3 separate regions of the Homo sapiens genome follow, and all the other regions are reported to be linked to region 1. Evidence: microRNA targets listed by miRTarBase, many of them from high-throughput screens and not tested one by one. Region 1 holds a microRNA gene; each other region holds the end of a gene's coding sequence.

Region 1 (7,000 bases):
GAATACAAACCACCGGGCACGGTGGCTCACGCCTGTAATCCCAGCACTTTGGGAGGCAGAGGTGGGCGAATGACCTGAGGTCAGGAGTTCGAGACCAGCCTGGCCAACATGGAGAAACCCCATCTCTACTAAAAATACAAAATCAGCCGGGCGTGGTGGCACATGCTTGTAATCCCAGCTACTAAGAAGGCTGAGGCAGGAAAATGGTTTGAACCCAGGAGGCAGAGGTTGTGGTGAGGCGATATCGTGCCATTGCACTCCATCCTGGGCAACAAAGGTGAAATTCCGTCTCCAAAAAACGAAAAAAAAAAGAAAACAAACCGGCCGCAGTGGCTCATGCCTGTAATCCCAGCACTTTGGGAGACTGAAGTGGGAGGATCACTTGAGGCCGGGAGTTTAAGACAAGCCTGGTCAACATACTGAGACCCCATCTCTAAAAAAAAATACAAAAATCAGCCAGGTATGATGGCACACATGCCTGTAATCTCAACTACTCAGGAGGCTGAGGCAGGAGAATCGCTTGAACCTGGGAGGCAGAGGTTGCAGTGAGCCAAGATTGTACCACTGCACTCCAGCCGGGGTGACAGAACGAGACTGTCTCAAAAAAAAAAAAAATACAAAAATGAGCTGGGCATGGTGGTGTGCACCTGTAGTTCCAGCTACTTGGGAGGCTGAGGTGGGAAGATCACTTGAGCCCAGGAGGTTAAGGCTGCAGTGAGCTATGATCACAGCACTGCACTCCTGCCTGGGGACAGAGTGAGATCCTGTCTCTTAGAAAAAAAAAAAGAAGAAGAAGAAAGAAAGAAAACAGAAATAGCTGGGCGCGGTGGCTCAAGTCTGTAATCCCAGCACTTTGGGAGGCCGAGGCAGGCAGATCACCTGAGGTCGGGAGTTCGAGACCAGCCTGACCAACATGGAGAAACTCCGTCTCTACTAAAAATACAAAATTAGCCGGGCATGGTGGTGGTGCATGCCTGTAATCCCAGCTACTGGGGAGCCTGAGACAGGAGAATCACTTGAACCTGGGAGGTGGAGGTTGCGGTGAGCCGAGATCATGCCATTGCCCTCCAGCCTGGGAAACGAGAGCAAAACTCTGTCTCAAAAAAAAAAAAAAAAAGAAAGAAGAAAATAGAAATAACTCAGGTCTAAGACCTCCTCCTAGTCACAACCAGTTTTCTGCGTTCATCTTGGCTTGAGTGATCTATAGTCTGTGTCTATCCGCCACCTAAGTGCTTGCATCTCGTACGTAAGCCACACCTCAAAGACGGCCAAGGAGAAGGGGTGGGCCAGCCTCTTTTCATCCTCCAAGATGGTCTTCCGGTTGCCCCCGTTGACATCGATGCTTGAGATGGAGTGAAGTTTGGAGTCAACCCAGTAGAGGCGGCCACTGAGGAGATCTAGACACACAAGTGGATAAGGAGAGGTCACGTGCTGATGCCAGTCCCAGAGGGTCCTGAGGGCCTGGCCACGCTGCTCCGGGCAGGAAGACCCCCTGCCAGGGACCTAGCAGAAAAGCACCTGGAGAGGCAGCTCCAACCACATGTGAGCCTGAACCCCTCCCCTGTGACGCCCTCTCCAATGGGCAGGTAGGGGAGTTGCAGGTCAGAAAAACTTCAAGGAGGCTGGGTACGGTGGCCCACGCCTGTAATCCCAGCAGTTTGGAAGGCTGAGGCGGGAGGATCGCTTGCACCCTGAGTTTGAGACCAGCCAGGCCAACATAACAAGACTTTGTCTCTTCCCAAAAATAAAATAAAATTAGTCTGCCGTGGTGGCACGTGTCTGTAATCTCAGCTACTCAGGAGGGTGAGGCAGGAGGATCACTTGAGCCTGGGAGGTGGAGGCTGCAGTGAGCTACGATTGCGCCAGTGCACTCCAGCCTGGGTGACAGACCAAGACCTCATCTCAAAAAAAGAAAAAACAAAGAAAAGAAAGAGGGAAACCTTCAGGGAGCAGCTTGGGCTTGTCCCAGAGCCACCTGGCAACCCCCGTCTGTCCTCCAGCCTGTGCCCGGCCCTGGCTGGGACGGCTGTCCTGCGAACATACCTAGGGTGATGCCATTGGGCCACTGAATGTTTTCAGTCACCAGCGAGTAGATGTCCACACCATTCAGGCCCCCTTTCTTGATCTTGGCGGGAGTTCCCCAGTCAGTCCAGTACATGAAGCTGGTGGGAGGACAGAGAATAGCTGTGAGGCTGGAGGGCGGGGGAGGATCCCAGCCAATGCGTGCAACGAATTCTGGAAGAAACAGCCAGGCTCAGGCTTGGGAAATAGTCCTGCTGGGAACCCCAAACTCCAAATGTGGCTTGTTTGGGTTTTTTTTTTTTTTTTTTGAGACAGAGTCTGTCTCTGTTGCCCAGGCTGGAGTGCAGTGGCACGATCTTGGCTTGCTGCAACCTCCACCTTCCAGGCTCAAGCGATTCTCCTGCCTCAGCCTCTGGTGTAGCTGGGATTACAGGCGCCCACCACCACGCCTGGCTACATTTTTGTATTTTTAGTAGAGACGGGGTTTCACCATGCTGGCCAGGCCCGGGAGGCTGAAATCAAGAGGATTGCTTGAGCCCAGGAAGTTGAGGCTACAGTGAGCTATGATCACACCACTGCACTCCAGCCTGGGTGGCAGACTGAGACGCCATCTCGAAAGAAAAAGGAAGAAACACAAGAACACAAGCCATGCGCAATGGCTCGCACGTGTAATCCCAGCACTTTGGGAGACCAAGGCAGGAGGATTGCTTGAGGCTAGGAGGTCAAGACCAGCCTGGGCAACATAGTGAGACCTCATCTCTACTAAAAATAAAATAAATTAGCTGGGCACAGTGGTGTTCACCTGTAGTTCCAGCTACTTGGGAGGCTGAAGTGGGAGAATCAACTGAGCCCAAGAGTTTGAGGCTGCAGTGAACTCTGATTGCGCCACTGCACTCCAGACTCAGTGACAGAGCGACACCCTGTCTCAAAACAAACAAATATGAGACCAGAACACACGCACACAACACACACATTTGTATCTGAGTGGAGACAGTCTGAGAGTCTCTTTCCCTCTGGCCTGGCAGTTATGTGGCCAAACACACTGGGCCACATGTACCCCACCCATTGTTCTGTGGCAACAGCGAGCATTGTCTTGTTTAAAAGAGATCCAGGGTTGGGTTGGGCACAGTGGCTCATGCCTGTAATCCCCGCTGTTTGGGAGGCTGAGGCAGGCAGATTACTTGAGGCTAAGGGTTCGAGACCAGCCTAGCCAACATGGTGAAACCCAGTCTCTACTAAAAATACAAAAAATTAGTCAGGCATGGTGGTACATGCTTGTAATCCTAATTAGTTGGGAGGTTGAGGCAGGAGAATCACTTGAACCTGGGAGGCGGAGGCTGCAGTGAGCCGAGATCACGCCACTGCAATCTAGCCTGGGCGACAGAGCGAGACTCCGTCTCAAAAAATAAAAAATAAAAAGGGGGCCGGGCGTGGTGGCTCACGCTTGTAATCCAAGCACTTAGGGAGGCCGAGGCGGGTGGATCACAGGGTCAGGAGATTTAGACCATCCTGGCTAACGCGGTGAAACCCCGTCTCTAATAAAAATGCAAAAAATTAACCGGGCGTGGTGGCGGGTGCCTGTAGTCCCAGCTACTCGGGAGGCTGAGGCAGGAGAATGGCGTGAACCTGTGAGGCGGAGCTTGCAGTGAGCCGTGATCGCACCACTGCACTACAGTCTGGGCGACAGAGCGAGATTCCATCTCAAATAAATAAATAAATAAAAATAAAAAGGGACGCTGGCCATAGCGGGCCCACCTTCACCCGCAGGCATCTGATGATGCTCTCTTCCCTGCTTTTCCCTTCCAGACACCAAGTGTGCCTTCTCCAGTGTTCTCTGCTGGAAACCCAACATTCACCTCCTGATTGTAGCTGCAAGGACAGTGTGCGTCCCGGGTTGTCAGCACCACACTGAAACTGTGAAATGCCACCTCTCACGTGCTTAGGTAGCAGATGTCACCTGACAGGTACAGAGTACACCGGGCAGGTGGCAGGGGCGATGCTTCCTGCCAGGGGACACAGGTCACAGTGTCTTGACCCAGGAGCTGCTGAGTCAGCCATGGGCTTGGAAGATACCATCCTGTTGTCTAGCCACTAACCAGTTTTTTGTTTAGTTTTTTTTTTTTTTTTTGAGACGGAGTCTCACTCTGTCACCCAGGCTGGAGTGCAGTGGGGCTGTCTTGGCTCACTGCAACCTCCATCTCCCAGGTTCAAGTGATTCTCCTGCCTCAGCCTCCCGAGCAGCTGGGATTACAGGTGCCCACCACCACACCCGGCTAATTTTTGTATTTTTAGTAGAGACGAGGTTTCACCATGTTGGTCAGGCTGGTCTTGATGATCCACCCACCTTGGCCTCCCAAAGTGCTGGGATTACAGGTGCTTTGAGCCACCATGCCCAGCCCACTAACCAGTTCCTGAAGCTCCTTCCTGCTCCCTCCATTCCCTCTGCAGCCCTCAGCGTCGTGGATACGCACCCATGAACAGGATCCACCACGATGGCCCTTGGCTTGGAGCCGTTCTCCCTGAATAACGTTTTCCTCTTCACGCCCTTGGTATCCGCAACAGAGACAGTGCCCAGGACAGAGTCGGTCCAGTAGATGTTGCTGTGGATCCAGTCCACAGCCAGCCCGTCGGGGGCCTGGATGTCTCTGCTGATGACGGTGTCATAGGAAGAGACGCCGTGGGCTCTGTCAAGCTGGGTGCTGAGGCAGGAGGAGAGAAGGGCATCAGCGCCAGGAGCCCTCATCTCACCTGCGGGCCAAGGCTGCAGGCAGGGGCGACGCTCACCTGCAGATCATTCTCTGGGACAGGTCAGACCAGTAGATTCTATTGCTGGCCACCTCCGTGTCCAGAGCGACCACGTTCCTCAGGTTGGGGATGAGGCTGGTGTACTCGCTCCGGTCCAGCGTCATCTTCCTGACCTCGTGCCGGTTGGTGAAGAAGAGGTAGGCGATGGAGCCTGGGGGTCCGGGGAGCGAGGTCAGGGGGTCAGAGGGGACCCGTCGATGGAACCAAGAGTGCCTCCCCATCCCCTTGTGTCATCCTGCAGGGTGCGGCTGAGCCAGAGGAGGCACCCAGAAAAAGAGGGTGGAAAAGACCTCCCAACGGGAACAGGCACAGTGGCGCCCACCTGTAATCCCAGCACTTTGGGAGGCTGAGGGAGGAGGATCACTTGAGGCTAGGAGCATAAGGCTAGCCTGGGCAAGACAATGAGACCTTATTGCCACAAAAAAAAAAAAAAAAAAAAAAGCCAGGCACGGTGGCTCAAGCCTGTAATCCCAGCACTTTGGGAGGCTGAGGCGGGAGAATCGAGACCAGCCTCACCAACATGGTGAAACCCTGTCTCTACTAAACATACAAAAACTAGCCAGGTTTGGTAGCCGGAACCTGTAATCCCAGCTACTCAGAAGGGTGAGGCAGGAGAATTGCTGGAACCTGGGAGGTGGAGGTTTCAGTAAGCCAAGATCGCACCACCGCACTCCAGCCTGGGTGACAGAATGAGACTCTGTCTCAAAAAAAAAAAAAAAAAAATTAACCAGGCATGGTGGCACATGCCAGTACTCCCAGCTCCTCCAGAGGCTTAGGCGGGACGATCACGTGAACCCAGGAGGTCAAGGCTGCAGCGAGCTATGATGGAGGCTGCACTGCACTACAGGCTGGAAGATAGAGCAGCACCCTGTCTCTAAAAAATAATAATAGCCAGGTGTGGTGTCTGTAATCCCAGCACTTTGGGAGGCCAAGGCAGGAGGATCACTTGGGTTCAGGAGTTCAAGACTAGCCTGGCCAACATGGTGAAACCCTGTTTTTACTAAAAATATGAAAATTAGCGGCTGGGCGCAGTGGCTCACGCCTGTAATCCGAGCACTTTGGAAGGCCGAGGTGGGCGGATCACGAAGTCAGGAGATCGAGACCATCCTGGCTAACACAGTGAAACCCCGTCTCTACTAAAAATACAAAAAAATTGGCCTGGTGCAGTGGCGGGCTCCTGTAGTCCCAGCTACTGGGGAGGCTGAGGCAGGAGAATGGCGTGAACCCGGGAGGCGGAGCTTGCAGTGAGCCGAGATCCTGCCACTGCACTCCAGCCTGGGCAACAGAGCGAGACTCCGTCTCGAAAAAAAAAAAAAAAGAAAAAAGAAAATTAGCCAGGCATAGTGGCATGCACCTGAGGTCCCAGCTACTCCGGAGGCTGAGGTGGGAGGATCAACCAATCCTCCTGCCCTCAAGCAATCCTCCCGCCTCAGCCTTCTGAGTAGCTGGGACCACAGGTGTGTGGCACCATGCCCAGCTAATTTTTTTTCTTTAACCCCTTGAAGTCACTCCCCAGGTTGTCCCTGAAAGGAAAGCCGGTTCCTGTTCCACCAGTAGGGCTGAGGGTTCCGTTAACTGGATATTCCCAAAAACTAGGACATATGCAGGCATCCCCCTGGCAAGCCCAAGTCCTAACAGGGCGGCAGACTCCCCTGCCAGAGCCCTCAGGAGCAAACAGCCTCCCGGTCAGGGGATATGAGTCTGTGCAAAGTTCAGAGGATGAAACTCCCCCACCACTGCTGCCTGCAAGGGGTGAGGCCGCCCCCACCCGCCGCCTTCCCGTGCTCACCCACAGCCTTGCAGGCCTTCGTGTGGGGGTCCAGCTGGAAGCCTTCCTCACACTGGCACTTGTAGCCACCCTCCAGGTTCACGCAGAGCTGGCTGCAGGTGTCGGGATCCTGACACTCATCGATATCTGGAAGAGAGAGAAAGAGGCTTGGTGGGGAGGCTCTTCCCCAATGGCTAGAGACGGAGCGATGGGGCCCAGGCCAAAACCCACACCTTCGAAGGCAGCCAGGAGACAGCCCAGCCTCTCGGGAGATGTAATCAAGGAAACAGCCAGGTGTCATCCCCAGTCATCACCTGACCTCATCATTCACCACGGGAACCCAACCAAGAGTGTGAAGCTGTGTCAGCTGAAATTTCTTTTCTTTTTTTTCTTTTCTTTTCTTTT
Region 2 (7,287 bases), not on the chromosome of region 1:
TGTAACTACACCCTACAACTCAGCCCACCTGCTGGTATCCAGCCGCTAACAGTATACAATCCCACTCAAATACTCAAAATTTCTGGTCCCCCAAAAATACAAACCACTAATCTCAACACAATAAACTCAGGTTTCTGCATCAATCCACACAAACCCTGTATGATAATTGCAGGATGGACTCCATGCCCTAGCCCCCGCCCAGCCTCCAACTGTCCACAACTCAGGTAGCCAGAGCCCCCACTGGGGAAAAACTTTTAGTGGACACATAATATTTCCTCCTACACTGGGAAAACAAAACAGTAGGGCTAGCCAACTAACCTCAACCCATCCCTTCCAACCACTCACCGGGGCGGCCCTGTCTTCCTCTCTCTCCGCTTGGCGATCAGAAAACAAGATCCTAAAGCCCCTCTTTGCCAAAGACCTCCAATTTTGCCTTCCTAGCCAGGGCATATTCTTTCTCTGTGGCACTTCCACCTAGCTCTGCTTACCCACTAACTGGACAGGAACCTGCACGCTAGTCTTCCTTAGTCCAAAAATAGACATAGCCCCTGGGGATAGACCCTTACCCTTCCAAATTCAAACATTATCCCGCAGACGCTGAGCCATACAGCTTATACCCCTGCTAATAGGGTTAGGCATTATGGCAGCTGCAAGAACTAGAGTCGCAGGAATTGCAACCTCTACCTATTACTACAAATCCCTATCCAAGGACCTCTCTGATAACACTGATGACCTAGCATCCACTGTATCAACCCTCCAGGCCCAACTAGACTCCCTAGCCGCAGTAGGTCTTCAAAGCCGCAGGGGCCTCGATTTACTTACCGCAGAAAAAGGAGGTATCTGCGTCTTCCTAGATGAAGAATGCTGCTTCTATTTCAGTCAGGCCTGGTTCAAGATGCAGTTAAAAAATTAAAGGACCGGGCTCAAAAATCAGGGAAAACAGTTCTTCCCCCTGGCCCTCCTGGCCCCTATGGCCCTTCAGCTCCTGGGCCTCCTGGCTACTCCCACTCCTTGGACCTGTCATAATCATTCTCCTTCTAATCTTTGGGTCCTGCCTCTTATGTCTCTTTACCCAGTGTTTTCTTAATTTTTTATTTATTTTATTTTATTTTATTTTTTTGAGGCAGAGTCTCGCTCTGGCACCCAGGCTGGAGTGCAGTGGCGCAATCTCTGCCCACTGCAAGCTCCGCCTCCTGGGTTCACACCATTCTCCTGCCTCAGCCTCCCAGGTAGCTGGGACTACAGGTGCCCGCCACTATGTCTGGCTAATTTTTTGTATATTTAGTAGAGACGGGGCTTCACCGCGTTAGCCAGGATGGTCTCGATCTCCTGACCTCGTGATCCACCTGCCTCGGCCTCCCAAAGTGTTGGGATTACAGGCGTGAGCCACGGCGCCCGGTCTCTTTACCCAGTTTTTACAGAAGCGCATCCGAGCCTTCATCCACAGAACCATACAAGACATGATGCTACTCCAAGAATACCAACAATTTCAAAGCCAGAACCCAAACCAACCCCTACCTTCCAGCCTCTCCCCCTAACCACCGCTCCCTCTCAGCTAGAAGCAGCCTGATGAGAACAACGCCCCCTTTTCTATCAACTATTAAAAGCTGGAATGTTAGGGTCACCCCGACCAGACTGTTCTCCTCCTTTCGCAAAGGTCTTACAATACAGTCCTTTGTGACCTCCGCATAGCTCCCCCAGGGCTAAAGGCAAACCCCCCGCCACAACTGACCCTTCGAGAGTAACTGTTTGTCCAGAAGACTTCAGCTGAACTGGCAGACAGTTCCAAGATGCGGTCAGAACACCTGCTAACCAAAGCTGGCAAAACTATCTCCAGGACGCAGTCAAGACACCTGCACCCCCAACTCGGTTCACACACCCCGACCCAGTTCCTCGCCCTGTAAAGCCCTGCTGCAGTCTGTAAGTGGGGCTGCCTCCTCTGCCTGTCAAGGAGCAGCCTGGCAGGACGAATAAAAATTGCTTACCTGACTTTGAGCCTACTCATCCTTTCTCTCGGCTAACCTTACACAGAGGCCGTGCGGTGGAAGCATGCTTGGCTTGTTCAGGATCAGGGGGCCCAAGCAGCAGGAATAGAGTGAGGGGTGAAGGGCTGAGAAGGTGGGGAGGTACCCAAGTGTGCAGACTCATGGTGTAGAGCCTTACAAGCCACACAGACCTTTGGATTTTCTCCTGCATGGAGGGTAAGCCATCAGAGGGTTGTAAACAGAAGAGGGACACAGTCAGGTTTTTAAAGGCTCACTCTGGCTACCACGTGGTGCCTGGACTGTGGCAGGGGAAGAGTGGGAGACCAGGAGGCCAGAGATGGAGGCTTAGGGTGGTTGCAGTGGAGCTGTGACAAATGGTCAGATTCTGCCCGTGTTCTGAAGGTAGGGCCAGCCAACAGGAGTAGCAGTGGATTGGACATGGGGTGTGAGAGAGAAGGATGAGAGGGAGGGAGGGAAGGAGGGACGGAGGGACAGAGAAAGTCAGGCCAACTTGGCTTCAGAGCCTGAACAATCCAGCCACCAAGACCATTCCTCACTCCCTTTCCACTTCTGCTAGTTTGACAGGTCCAGCCAGTGTCCCTGGCTCTTCCCAGGGACACTGGAGACCAGGGTGGCCAAAGGGGATGCCAGCTTCGCAGTTCTCATTTGGTTTGACCTTTCAGGAGCACGCGAGTGGTCAGTGTGGCCGCACTGGTCCCACCCATCCTTCTGGTACTTTCTTTTTCCTTTGCTGCCACAGGGCTCATAGTGAAACCTGTGAGGAACAGCGATCCAAGAAGTTCACTTTTGTTTTCGTTAAATTGACCAACTCACAGCCAAGAAACAGTTTAGATCAATACACCAAACTGTTCAGGAGTGCCAGAGTGTACAGGCCCAGACCCAGGTGCTGAGGAGGTAAGGGTGAGCAAAACGAAGCCCCTGCCTGTAGGGCGCTTGCTGTCTAGTGTTTTGCTGAATGTAAGAGTGACACGTGTAGGTGTCCAGGAGGTATCTGTGCCCTGAACAGAGGCTTAATGGGTGGCGGGACAGGAGTGAGGCTGAACATAGAGACAAGGTCCAGAGCTGAGAGTGGCACTGGTGGGCTGGGAGCAGGGGCACCTCCCAGCAGAGCATCCAGGATGGGTAAGGCATGGGCCAAATGTAATGGGCAAAATCTTTGGACAGCTGGCTGCTGGGGCAGGTGTGGAACTGTGAGGTGGAGGAGTGAGGGGCCTGGGGCTGTGCTCTGAAGCACTGCAGAGGATCAGAGCCTTCTCACATCTTGGAGGTGCCCCTCTTGGTCTGTGGACCCTTGACTGGGAAGGGGCTCTGCCTGCACAGATCTTGTTCCTTGAGTGGCCTGGGTATGGGCTCCTGGACACAGAAGTGTGTCCGCGTGGGTGCTGTGGTGTGCCGGGGGAGGGGCCAGCCTACCTCTAGCTTCATTGCTAGAATGAAGTGCAATCTGCAAAGTCTAAATTTTTTTTCTTTTTTGAGATGGAGTCTCACTCCATTGCCCAGGCTTGGAGTGCAGTGGCGTGATCTCGGCTCACTGCAACCTCCACCTCCCGGGTTCAAGCAATTCTCTGCCCCAGCCTCCTGAATAGCTGGGATTACAGGCACCTGCCACCATGCCTGGCTAATTTTTGTATTTTTGGTAGAGACAGGGTTTCACCATCTTGGCCAGGCTGGTCTTGAACTCCTGACCTCATGATCCACCCGCTTCGGCCTCCCAAAGTGCTAGGATGACAGGCATGAACCACCGTGCCCGGCCCAAAGTCTAAATTTAAGCAAAGGAAGGAAGGAAAGAAAGGAAGGAAGGAAGCCCTTGGCTTCCTATTGAGGAGAGGGAGGGGGAGGGTGGAGCAGGAAGAGGCCTGGCTGGGCCTTCTCCTTCCCTGGCTGCCCTGGATGGGCACATGGGCAGTCTGTCTGGGGCAGCAGGCTCCCCTACCCCAGATGGAGTTCAGCAGAGAGGATCAATACCCTTCAGCTGCTGTGGTGCTGGGATGCCCCGCTGCCTCCTGCATGCAAGGTCAGAGGGTGAGCCAAGCCAAGCAGGGAGCTCTCACTTGGGCAGTGGGCAGATGCACAGGTCTCAAGAGACTGCTGGGCACTTCAGGTTCCCCTCCCCCGCCAAGACAGTGGTGCCAGGTGCCACCCGCTGGCTGCGGGGAGCAGGGAGGGGGCACACTCAGAGCTGCAGGAAGCCAGTTGGGAATCCTGCACCACTCAGCTGGGATGGAGAGGGATGGGGCTGGGTCGGGGCTGGAGAGGCCGAGATGTAGGCAGGGAAGGCAAGAAGGCAGGAGACGCAGGCCACAGTGGTTCCAGATCAGGAAGTTTTATTGCTGACATGCAGGAAGAGTCCCCATGTAGTACAAAAATATGTCTTTATACAAACTTTTTTGTGACTTTTTCCGTTTCTTTACAATAGGACTTCTCTCAGTGTGTGACACCCAGTGAGGGCTGACCCATCCTCCTCTCCTTTGCTTCACCAGGAATGTCATCAGACACATGGCTTGACCTTGGAAGGGCCCAGTCTGTCTGACAGGGCTTTGCAGACCCGGCGGCTATTGCTTTGAAAAGGAGGAGAAAGACCACGCACGGGCAGCAGCCTGGAGGGACCCGGTGGGCTGCTGAGAGGGGGCTCCGCTGCGACGGGCCCTGGCCCAGCTTCAGGCCCTCACAGGAGGACAGTCAAGGGCTGGGAGCCCTAGGCCGGACTGCATTTCCGCTCCCGCAGGAGACTTTCTATGAAATAAATATAGAAAAGAGGGCATCCCCCAGCCCCACAGCACAAGACCCTGGCCCTCAGCGCTGGACAGCTGAGACAGACGCAGGCTCGCTGCTCAGGGGGAGTAAGTGCTGGGCTCCAGTAGGCTCCCACAGGCCCACTGAGGCAGAGGCATGAGTCGCCCAAGTGCTGGATGGGGCATGGGGAGAAAGGGGCGTGGGCAGCCCTGCTACTGCTGGCAAGAGGTGGCCCCATTTTTTCCAGATGGGGAAACTGAGGCACAAGGAGGTTTGGGAACTTGCCCAAGGTCACTCACAGTGAGTCAGCTTTTTAGGGGGAGGAGAGCGGCTCACACTCTGGGAAACACAGTCACCTCCCCACTGGGGAGCAGGGCCAGGCAGGAGGGGCCTCAGGGCCCATGACTGCCTGGAGGGGACACTCAGCCTCTCTGAGGACATATGGGGGGTAGGCCTCTGGGGAAGGGTCTTTGCTTGGCATCAGGCAGGGCCAAGTCCAGTAAGGGCAAGGGGAGGGGGCATTCTGGTGAGAACAGCATTTCTGGCAAGACGGGCATCCACTTCAAAATCTCGGCTCAAAAGGGCAGCAGGGCTGTTCTCAAGCCAGGCAGGCAGGGTCCCCCAATCCCTACAATTCTCCTGAGTCCCTCACCACCATGGAGGACCCTTGCTAGGGTCTACCGGGAGAGTCACCACATCTATTATGAGGCAAGGGCACTGGGATATGTTCCCACCATCCCCTAAACACAAGAGTAGGCTAGGGGAGCGTGCAGGCAGCCCCCGCTCACGGCCAGGCCTGCAGCCCAACCCATGGGCCCCTTCGCACTGGGAGTCCACGTGAGCTCAGTACCACGGGGAAGGATAGAGAAGGGAACAGGTTAACGCGCGTGTACAGCACCTCAGAGAAGCCACTGAGACGGGAGAGAAAGAGCCAGGTCTAGAAAGGCCTCCCATCACCGGCAGCAGAGAGGGACTGGTGGGCTGAAAGGGGACAGGGACTGGCAGGAGGGGCTTCCCTGCCTGGGGGTGAGGAGGGAGCTCACGTGTGGGCTGTGGATTCCTTGCTGTCCAGCCAGGCTGGGGGCAGGGAGTGGCCATGGACTGAGCCACCTAGAGATGGGAGAGAAGTTGGTATGGTAAAAAAATAAATATATTTGAGTTCGGTTTAAGATGAGGTGAAGGTTTTCCAAAGCTTGGACTGAGGGGCCTGGATCAGAAAGAGAGGGACGGAAAGAGGCTGTGGCAGGGGCCTGGGAGAGCAGGGAGGAGGGGAAGCTCGCTCTGGGGCCTGCAGCGAGCTGCACTTTCAGCTTATTTGGACTGTGGGGAGCAGCGCCCCAGGTCAGTTGGTGGCCGCTGGGGAAGGCCCTGGAGTGGGGTGAGCAGGCTCCCTCCTCCCTCTTGCTCAGTCCAGAGACAGCATGGTTAAAGAGACAGAGGTAGATTAAAACATCGTGATTAAAAGCAGATTAGTTATCTAGGCTTCTCAGATTTAAAAACCAAACAATCGAGCAATCATCCCAAAAGGTAGCTTCGTGGTACCTCTGCTGACCCCACGTGTGACCTGGGCTGTCCCTGTCCCTGCCCTGTCCCTATTGTGGCCCGGGAGAGTCCAGCACTACAGGGCCCAGCCCTGACAGCCACGCCTTTGGCTGGGGCTGGAAGAAGTGGCAGCAGTGCTGGTGGCCCCGGCTGAGGCTGTTATTTCCGCAGGTAGCGCTGCGCCAGGATGGCCGTGTCCAAGGAGGTCATGGGCTGTGCGTCGTGGCCCAGCCGTCGCACCGGTGGTGCGCTGCCGAACTGCCGCTTGGGTACCCAGCTCCGGGCGTCATGGATGGAGCTCTTCTCCTCGGCCAGCAGCAGCTGCTGACGCATGTAGTTCTCAAACTCGTACTGGGAGCACTCCTCCGTCACCTTCGCCTTTGAGGCGGGGAGGGTGGGAAGGAGACAAAGATAAACCCAGATGAAGGCAGCGCAGCAGACAGGAGGGCAGGCAAGAGTGCTGGCAGCCTGGCTCCTGCAGTCACCCTTCCAGGCACCACACCCTCAGGCCTCAAGGCCGGGGGTGGGAGTGGCGCTGAGGGTGGGTCCCTGACCCCCTCCAGCCAACCTCAACTCCCCTTGCAGGCCGCCCTGCGGACCCGGGACTGACGCAGACTCATGCTTCCTAACTCACTGGCTGCGTGAGAGGTCACTTTACCTCAGAAGCCTTAGCTGTCTGGCCCCTCGCAAAGGTTCTCTGAGCCCTGAGGCGGCTAATGCACGTCAAGAGGTACGAGCAAGCCCTGGGCTGGGGGCGCAGCACCTGGAGGAGCCACATACGCAGGGCCCCATGCTGAGCTCCCTGGGATGGTCTAGGCAGATGGTAACAGAAGCTGAAGTGGTGTCCCCGTGCCAGTCACCACAGGAGACAGCAGGGCTTCCGGATGAGACTTGGGTTCAAGGCTTAGCTCCACTACTTCTAAGCTGTGTGGCTTTGGGAAAGTCCTCTCTAACCCTGTTTCCTCTTCTGTAACATGGGGCTAAGAACACAGGCCACGCAGGCCCG
Region 3 (7,287 bases), not on the chromosome of region 1:
ATTTGATAGCAGCAACTCCAGTCTTTTGAGAAAAGTTTATCTTGAGTAACATTTTTTAAACCTGAAACAGGGTATGATTACCTTTAGATCAGTTTTCTTCTATACAGTGCCAAGTTCTTGTTTTTTGTTTTTGTTTTGTTTGAATGCCAGATTCTTTCTGTGTAATCATTCAGTTTTCATTGTCTGTGAAAAAAATTGTTTACTCCTTAAAGGAGTAAAATATATGGAAAATATAGTTGTTTACTTGCTAACCACTTGGTATCCAAGACCTGGATTAGTGGTAAAATTGAGATTAGGATTCCATTTCTTATATTTTTATCTAGTTTTTCTGTTTGTTTTTGTTTTTTTTTAAACAGGTCCTTATGCTACTGAATGTTGGATTTTTTTTAAAGCAATACTTTTCTTTTTTAAATTTTGTTTACCCAAAGTGTTTATACATTGAAAACAGCATTGCTTTTACTCTAAATTGCCTGCCCCATCATCTGCTTACTTACTGTAAGGGAAAATATTTACAGGGTATCTAAATAGAACACTAACCACAGTATTTTCTTCATAGATCAAAGGGATTATATCTGTGAATATTGTGCTCGGGCCTTCAAGAGTTCCCACAATCTGGCAGTGCACCGGATGATTCACACTGGCGAGAAGCCATTACAGTGAGTATTATTTACTGGTGAACATCTGGGTGAGAAGGATATATGCCCTACTTGAAGGTTTGCCGCTTTACAAACATATTAGTTGCCACTGCTGTTTACTTTCATCAAATAAATGAGTGGATATTGATTGGGGGCATTAGTTAGTAGCCTTTTTCTTAGTTTCCCTCTGTTTTTCAGGCAAACAGAAGAAGATCAGATTAGTTTTCCATCTAGTAACATTTCCCAATCCTTCAAAAGAAGTATGTTACTGATTATTGTGTGTGTGTGTGTGTGTGTGTGTGTGTATGTATATATATGCTCTAAACTCTAACCCTGATCCTGAATAAGAGCACTCTTTATTTCTCTGTTGGATCAGCCATTTCCTTTTCTCCTCTCCTTAGATGTGAGATCTGTGGATTTACTTGTCGACAAAAGGCATCTCTTAATTGGCACATGAAGAAACATGATGCAGACTCCTTCTACCAGTTTTCTTGCAATATCTGTGGCAAAAAATTTGAGAAGAAGGACAGCGTAGTGGCACACAAGGCAAAAAGCCACCCTGAGGTGCTGATTGCAGAAGCTCTGGCTGCCAATGCAGGCGCCCTCATCACCAGCACAGATATCTTGGGCACTAACCCAGAGTCCCTGACGCAGCCTTCAGATGGTCAGGGTCTTCCTCTTCTTCCTGAGCCCTTGGGAAACTCAACCTCTGGAGAGTGCCTACTGTTAGAAGCTGAAGGGATGTCAAAGTCATACTGCAGTGGGACGGAACGGGTGAGCCTGATGGCTGATGGGAAGATCTTTGTGGGAAGCGGCAGCAGTGGAGGCACTGAAGGGCTGGTTATGAACTCAGATATACTCGGTGCTACCACAGAGGTTCTGATTGAAGATTCAGACTCTGCCGGACCTTAGTGGACAGGAAGACTTGGGGCATGGGACAGCTCAGACTTTGTATTTAAAAGTTAAAAAGGACAAAAAAAAAATCTAAAGCATTTAAAATCTAGTGAAATAACTGAAGGGCCTGCTCTTTCCATTGTGGATCACAGCACACACATACATACACCCTCCACCTCCCCATCCCCTGTTCTCCCTCTGTTGCTCCCCTTATAAAATTGATGTTGTCTTTACCAGAAAGGTAGACAAAAAAGAAGCAGCAGCAGCTCTTAAAGTGAGGGTTATTCTCATACTCGGTTCCAGCCATCAGCAGACTTCCTGCTCATCGGCAGATCCCCCTTTCCAACCTGTAACTCTGATGTGCTCTGGATCAGCTTTTAACTTTTAATCATATATTACTGTCTTCTAAATCCCTTCTCCTCCTCTACTGCTGCCCTATGGTTCTGGCTCCTACCCCCTGCGGCACACTTATCTTCAAATACCATAGAATTCTAATCTCTGGAGGCTGGCAGCTTGACTTGGCACTTTAGGGCCCCTTAGCAGGGTGAGCTGTTAAAACAGCACACATCTCTCATCCCCTCTTCCTTTATTCCCCCCTGGGTTTCAGAAAGGAAGGATATATGGGGACCACCTCCCCCTTCTTTGATCCCAGCATCTCAGTCCCCCTCCCAACCCTCCATATGGCTCTCAATGGTGCTCACTTGCTTGGAAGCAGGCTCCCAATAGGGAGGGGGCTGCCCTCTACAGTCTCTTTGACTGTAAGACAGGGCTCTGTATCAGTGAGACGATGAGAAAAGTCCCAGGCTAATGGCAGAAATTTGCACTTTGAACATGTGTGTTTTTGTGTTGTGGAACCTGAGATTCCTTATTTATTAACAGGAAGTCTGATTTTTTTTTTTTGGAGTCTTTGTTGCTATATTTTGTGGGGCTGGGAGAGAGAGATTAGATTATTTTGACATGGGATCCCTTCCATAACAGGTACTTTGAAGGCAAGACATAGGGTTGAAGAAGCACAGCCAGCCTCTGAAATCATAGCTCTCCAGTGGCTTTTAAAGAAAGCTGGTCCTCAGCACTAACAAAATCACTACAATAGCCTAGTGCTTTTTTGGAAGCCTTTTTAGGGAAGAATGTTAGGTTCATGGTAACTAGTATGCTCTTTGAGATTTTTACAGTGTTGAAACTTAAGAATTTTGAGAGGGTGAGGAGGGTTGTTCAGAATCTAAATTACAGATAGATGATTGTTTCTTGTGAATTTGTTTCTTTTCCTTTTTTTTTGTCCCTACCATTTCCTTACATTTCCCTTGGGGCCCATCTCTGGCTCCTTGCTTTTTGTTTCTTGCTTTGCTTTATCAGTTCATTCCAGCTCCCTGTTAGTGAAGGACACTGCTGTTAGTGAAGGAACAAAGTCTATGAGTCCTAAAATTTTAAGTCAAAGAAAACTGCTCTGTTTCCCCTTTAGTAACACTTCTGAAGAGGAAAAACTTCAATAGCCAAAGTTAATAATCCTATATAATAATTGCTTTGGCTTTCACCTAAAATTCTGGGCATCACAATTTCCTTGGGATAGAGGTTGTGTTGGGGAATAGATTGCTTATTGCTGTTCACTGGAGAGAAAAGGTAGTGTTTTTGTACAAGGTCATACCGCCAGAAGCCCCAAATCCTATTTTGGCTCATCTTCAGGTAAAGAGTAATTCCTATCCTGTGTGCCTCAGAAGCTAGAATCGAAGGCTTACCCTATTCATTGTTTATTGTCAGAAATGCATGATGGCTCTTGGAAAGAATGACGTTTTGCTGGAAAAAAAAAAAAGAACAGTTTGTGTTTCACAAACATGGCTTATCAATTTTTTCAAAGAATTCTTTTTTCCCAAAAAGAGGAGTAACAAAATGTCATTTCTGAAAGAGGCTTACTTTATACCAACTAGTGTCAGCATTTGGGATGCCAGGGAACAGAGAGTGAGACACCTACAATCACCAGTCTCAAATGCGCTATTGTTTCTTTTCAGAGTGTTGCAGATTTGCCATTTCTCCATAATATGGGGATAGAAAATGGAATAAAGATAGAAGGGATGTAGAATATGCTTTCCTGCCAACATGGTTTGGAGTCGACTTTGGTATATTGACTAGATTTGAAAATACAAGATTGATTAGATGAATCTACAAAAAAGTTGTCCTCCTCTCAGGTCCCTTTTACACTTTTTGACTAACTAGCATCTATATTCCACACTTAGCTTTTTTGTCACACTTATCCTTTGTCTCCGTAAATTTCATTTGCAGTGGTTAGTCATCAGATATTTTAGCCACCTACACAAAAGCAAACTGCATTTTTAAAAATCTTTCTGAGATGGGAGAAAATGTATTCTCCTTTCCTATACCGCTCTCCCAACAAAAAAACAACTAGTTAGTTCTACTAATTAGAAACTTGCTGTACTTTTTCTTTTCTTTTAGGGGTCAAGGACCCTCTTTATAGCTACCATTTGCCTACAATAAATTATTGCAGCAGTTTGCAATACTAAAATATTTTTTATAGACTTTATATTTTTCCTTTTGATAAAGGGATGCTGCATAGTAGAGTTGGTGTAATTAAACTATCTCAGCCGTTTCCCTGCTTTCCCTTCTGCTCCATATGCCTCATTGTCCTTCCAGGGAGCTCTTTTAATCTTAAAGTTCTACATTTCATGCTCTTAGTCAAATTCTGTTACCTTTTTAATAACTCTTCCCACTGCATATTTCCATCTTGAATTGGTGGTTCTAAATTCTGAAACTGTAGTTGAGATACAGCTATTTAATATTTCTGGGAGATGTGCATCCCTCTTCTTTGTGGTTGCCCAAGGTTGTTTTGCGTAACTGAGACTCCTTGATATGCTTCAGAGAATTTAGGCAAACACTGGCCATGGCCGTGGGAGTACTGGGAGTAAAATAAAAATATCGAGGTATAGACTAGCATCCACATAGAGCACTTGAACCTCCTTTGTACCTGTTTGGGGAAAAAGTATAATGAGTGTACTACCAATCTAACTAAGATTATTATAGTCTGGTTGTTTGAAATACCATTTTTTTCTCCTTTTGTGTTTTTCCCACTTTCCAATGTACTCAAGAAAATTGAACAAATGTAATGGATCAATTTAAAATATTTTATTTCTTAAAAGCCTTTTTTGCCTGTTGTAATGTGCAGGACCCTTCTCCTTTCATGGGAGAGACAGGTAGTTACCTGAATATAGGTTGAAAAGGTTATGTAAAAAGAAATTATAATAAAAGGGATACTTTGCTTTTCAAATCTTTGTTTTCTCTTATTCTAGGTAAGGCATATTAAAAATAAATATGTAAAGAAGAAAAATAAAAGTTGTCTTCATGGAAGCAACTTGTCTTCCTTGGTTGTACTGAGTTACAGTTATCCTAGGGGTGAAACATGTGATGCTGCTAAGCAAACCAAATGCCCTCAGAACAGGTGTTATGTGGGGCATACTATTGTTTGCTTTTGTTGAGAATCAGGTGGTTAATTTTTGACTGTTCTTGATTTCTAATGCTGAAATGACATGATTCTGTTATTCAGCAAACTTGGAAATCTTGATGTTTTGACAACTGCCTCCTAGGAAAACTGGCCATATGTTAATTAACCTAGTAGATGGAAAATTAAGGATTATGTGAGGTTAATTTTACCCTGATAATGACAAAACCTTGATAGCATTTAATATTAATACTTCTTCTCAAAATTGAATGTTTATATCAAGTACTGATTTTTATTTTAAAAAAGAAAAAACTATAATCCTTCTGCCTTCCAAAAGCCATGCTGTGATAGCTGCCCAGGCTGCTCTGTTACATCTCCCATTTATTGTTTACTTTTATAAATTTGCTTCTAAGATGGTATGTGTTTCAGCTTATTGGCAATATCTATGATATAAATAATGAAAGCTAATTATTTCATTTAGCCCTTACCCAATAAGCATCATTTTCTAAGTTAAATGCAATAGAATGACAACCCTCCAAGTACCTTTTAACTTTTATACTGTCATTTCAAAGCCCAGCTCATTCTCTTATTTTAAGAAGCATGTGGTATGACTGGGTAGGGGAGAAAAAAGGAAAGCATGTTGTCACTTGAGTGAGACTGCTTTAGAAATGTTACCAAGTTAGCGTTGGGTGTTTCCTGTTCTTTGGAAGAGAACAGGCCTAAACAGTACCTTCCTCCTCCTATGTAGCTACCAGGAAGGCACCGTGATTGAAATTAGAGATGCTTCCTTGCTTGATTTTTAAGTATAAATTAAATTACCTTTAAAAAGTACGTAAGGTTAGGAGTGAAAAAAATCCTGTTTTTAAAGGACTTCACACACCCTTTGTTTCTTGAACAAGATGTGAACTACCTAAACAGAAAATGAAATTGGAAAGTCAGTGGGAGAGACAACTATAGAATCAGACTTCTATTTAAATTCAAGCCTCGTTACTTGATTTTGTGCATGTTATTTCTTGAAGTTTCAGTTTCTTATATGGAGAAATAACATTTACCTCAGAAATATTCTGAAGATCAAATGGAATTGCTTTAAAGTATTTAGCTTACTGACTGACCCATGGTAGATACTTAATAAATGGCAGCTGTGTCAATAACAATTTTATTGAATGAACATTTCGCCAGCCTATGAGAAAAAAGACATGGGAAGCATAAGGGAGAATGATAATAAAATGAACTAATTCTAAGTGTGTGAGATAGATTACATTAGGCAGGGGTGCCATGAGGATTGGTATGATAGTGACCTTGTTGCTAAGTGCAAAAGCAAAACAATGACATAGAAACAAGTGTGCTAAGTACTGAGTGGAGGAGAGAGATGGAGGCAGACGCTGCAGGGGAAAAAAAATCTGATTAAAAAGGGCCCTTTGATTCCACAGGCACAAAAATCCACAGCCAGGAATTTGCTACCTCCTCTGAGTCAGGCAGGGCGTGGGGGTGGGGTGCACAATCCCATTAGTAGAGAATGCCCAGTGGGTTTAGTCTTTGAGAGTCACATCTCTTATTTGGACCAGTATAGACAGAAGTAAACCCAGCTGACTTGTTTCCTGGGACAGTTGAGTTAAGGGATGGCTTTCACAGAGCATTCACCGCTGACCCCTCACCGTCGGGACCTCTGTAGCCGCTCTATCTGGCTAGCAAGGAAGATTCGTTCAGACCTGACTGCTCTTACGGAATCCTATGTAAGTTGCCTATTTTGCTGTTATCTGTTTTCCCTTCATCTTTTTTGATCCAGCAACTTACCATCACGCATCAGCTCCATTACCAATTGTGAAAGCTCTAATCATATAGTCATTCATATAGGTTATTTGACATGGGCCCTTCCCTTGAGGAAACCCATGTGACTTTATTTTCTTCCTCTGGGCTGTTTAGGAGATGAAGTTACTTGAATGAGAAAATATATATGGAGTTCTAGAAAGGATTGGTTTATATGTCTTGGAGGCTATTCCAAATTTATTGGCATATATTCTGAATACTACTAGAACAGATTAGCCATGGGCCCTCTGGGTTCTTCATAGCCATTGTTCTGAATTTTTTAGCTATGTAAATGAAAGGTTTATGGGATAGGAAGAGTACTATGAACGTGGGAGGAATTTGTAAATCCTACCAATTTCTCCTATATAGCATTAGCCACCCACCTTTTAGTATTCTGCATCAAAAGTAGATTGTGTCTAAAGAGAAAGGTAAGCTATCAAAAGGATCTCCTAGAAGATTCATTGGAAACTTGTGGAAGTGTCAAATTCTTGAGCTAATTCTGGAGTT

Evidence for each region. Region 1 holds the annotated microRNA hsa-miR-6886-5p (CCCGCAGGUGAGAUGAGGGCU, at 4,757-4,777, opposite strand). A microRNA usually pairs through its seed, bases 2 to 8, with sites in the 3' UTR of a target mRNA and lowers its output. Matches are read on the target gene's strand: a 7mer-m8 pairs with bases 2 to 8, a 7mer-A1 pairs with bases 2 to 7 and ends in A, and an 8mer does both.
Region 2: miRTarBase lists STK40 as a target of hsa-miR-6886-5p. Seed matches in the 3' UTR shown: 7mer-m8 at 4,726-4,732.
Region 3: the mRNA of ZFP91 is a reported target of hsa-miR-6886-5p. Seed matches in the 3' UTR shown: 7mer-m8 at 1,986-1,992.

The regions. Positions count from the first base shown.
Region 1 is chr19:11,111,256-11,118,255 of GRCh38, reverse strand. MIR6886 (microRNA 6886) reads right to left here and starts at 4,782; the gene lies at 4,722-4,782. LDLR (low density lipoprotein receptor) reads right to left here. Exons shown (of 18, transcript NM_000527.5): 8 at 6,617-6,742; 9 at 4,807-4,978; 10 at 4,494-4,721; 11 at 2,044-2,162; 12 at 1,258-1,397.
Region 2 is chr1:36,335,315-36,342,601 of GRCh38, forward strand. STK40 (serine/threonine kinase 40) reads right to left here. Exons shown (of 11, transcript NM_001282547.2): 11 at 4,314-6,659. The coding sequence ends at 6,441. Among named protein-coding and RNA genes, the nearest start is that of EVA1B, 15 kb to the left of the region's middle.
Region 3 is chr11:58,616,160-58,623,446 of GRCh38, forward strand. ZFP91 (ZFP91 zinc finger protein, atypical E3 ubiquitin ligase) reads left to right here. Exons shown (of 11, transcript NM_053023.5): 10 at 557-656; 11 at 1,037-5,391. The coding sequence ends at 1,547. It overlaps CNTF (ciliary neurotrophic factor), which reads left to right and starts at 6,506. Exons shown (of 2, transcript NM_000614.4): 1 at 6,506-6,707. The coding sequence starts at 6,594. It overlaps ZFP91-CNTF (ZFP91-CNTF readthrough (NMD candidate)), which reads left to right. Exons shown (of 13, transcript NR_024091.1): 10 at 557-656; 11 at 1,037-1,409; 12 at 6,607-6,707.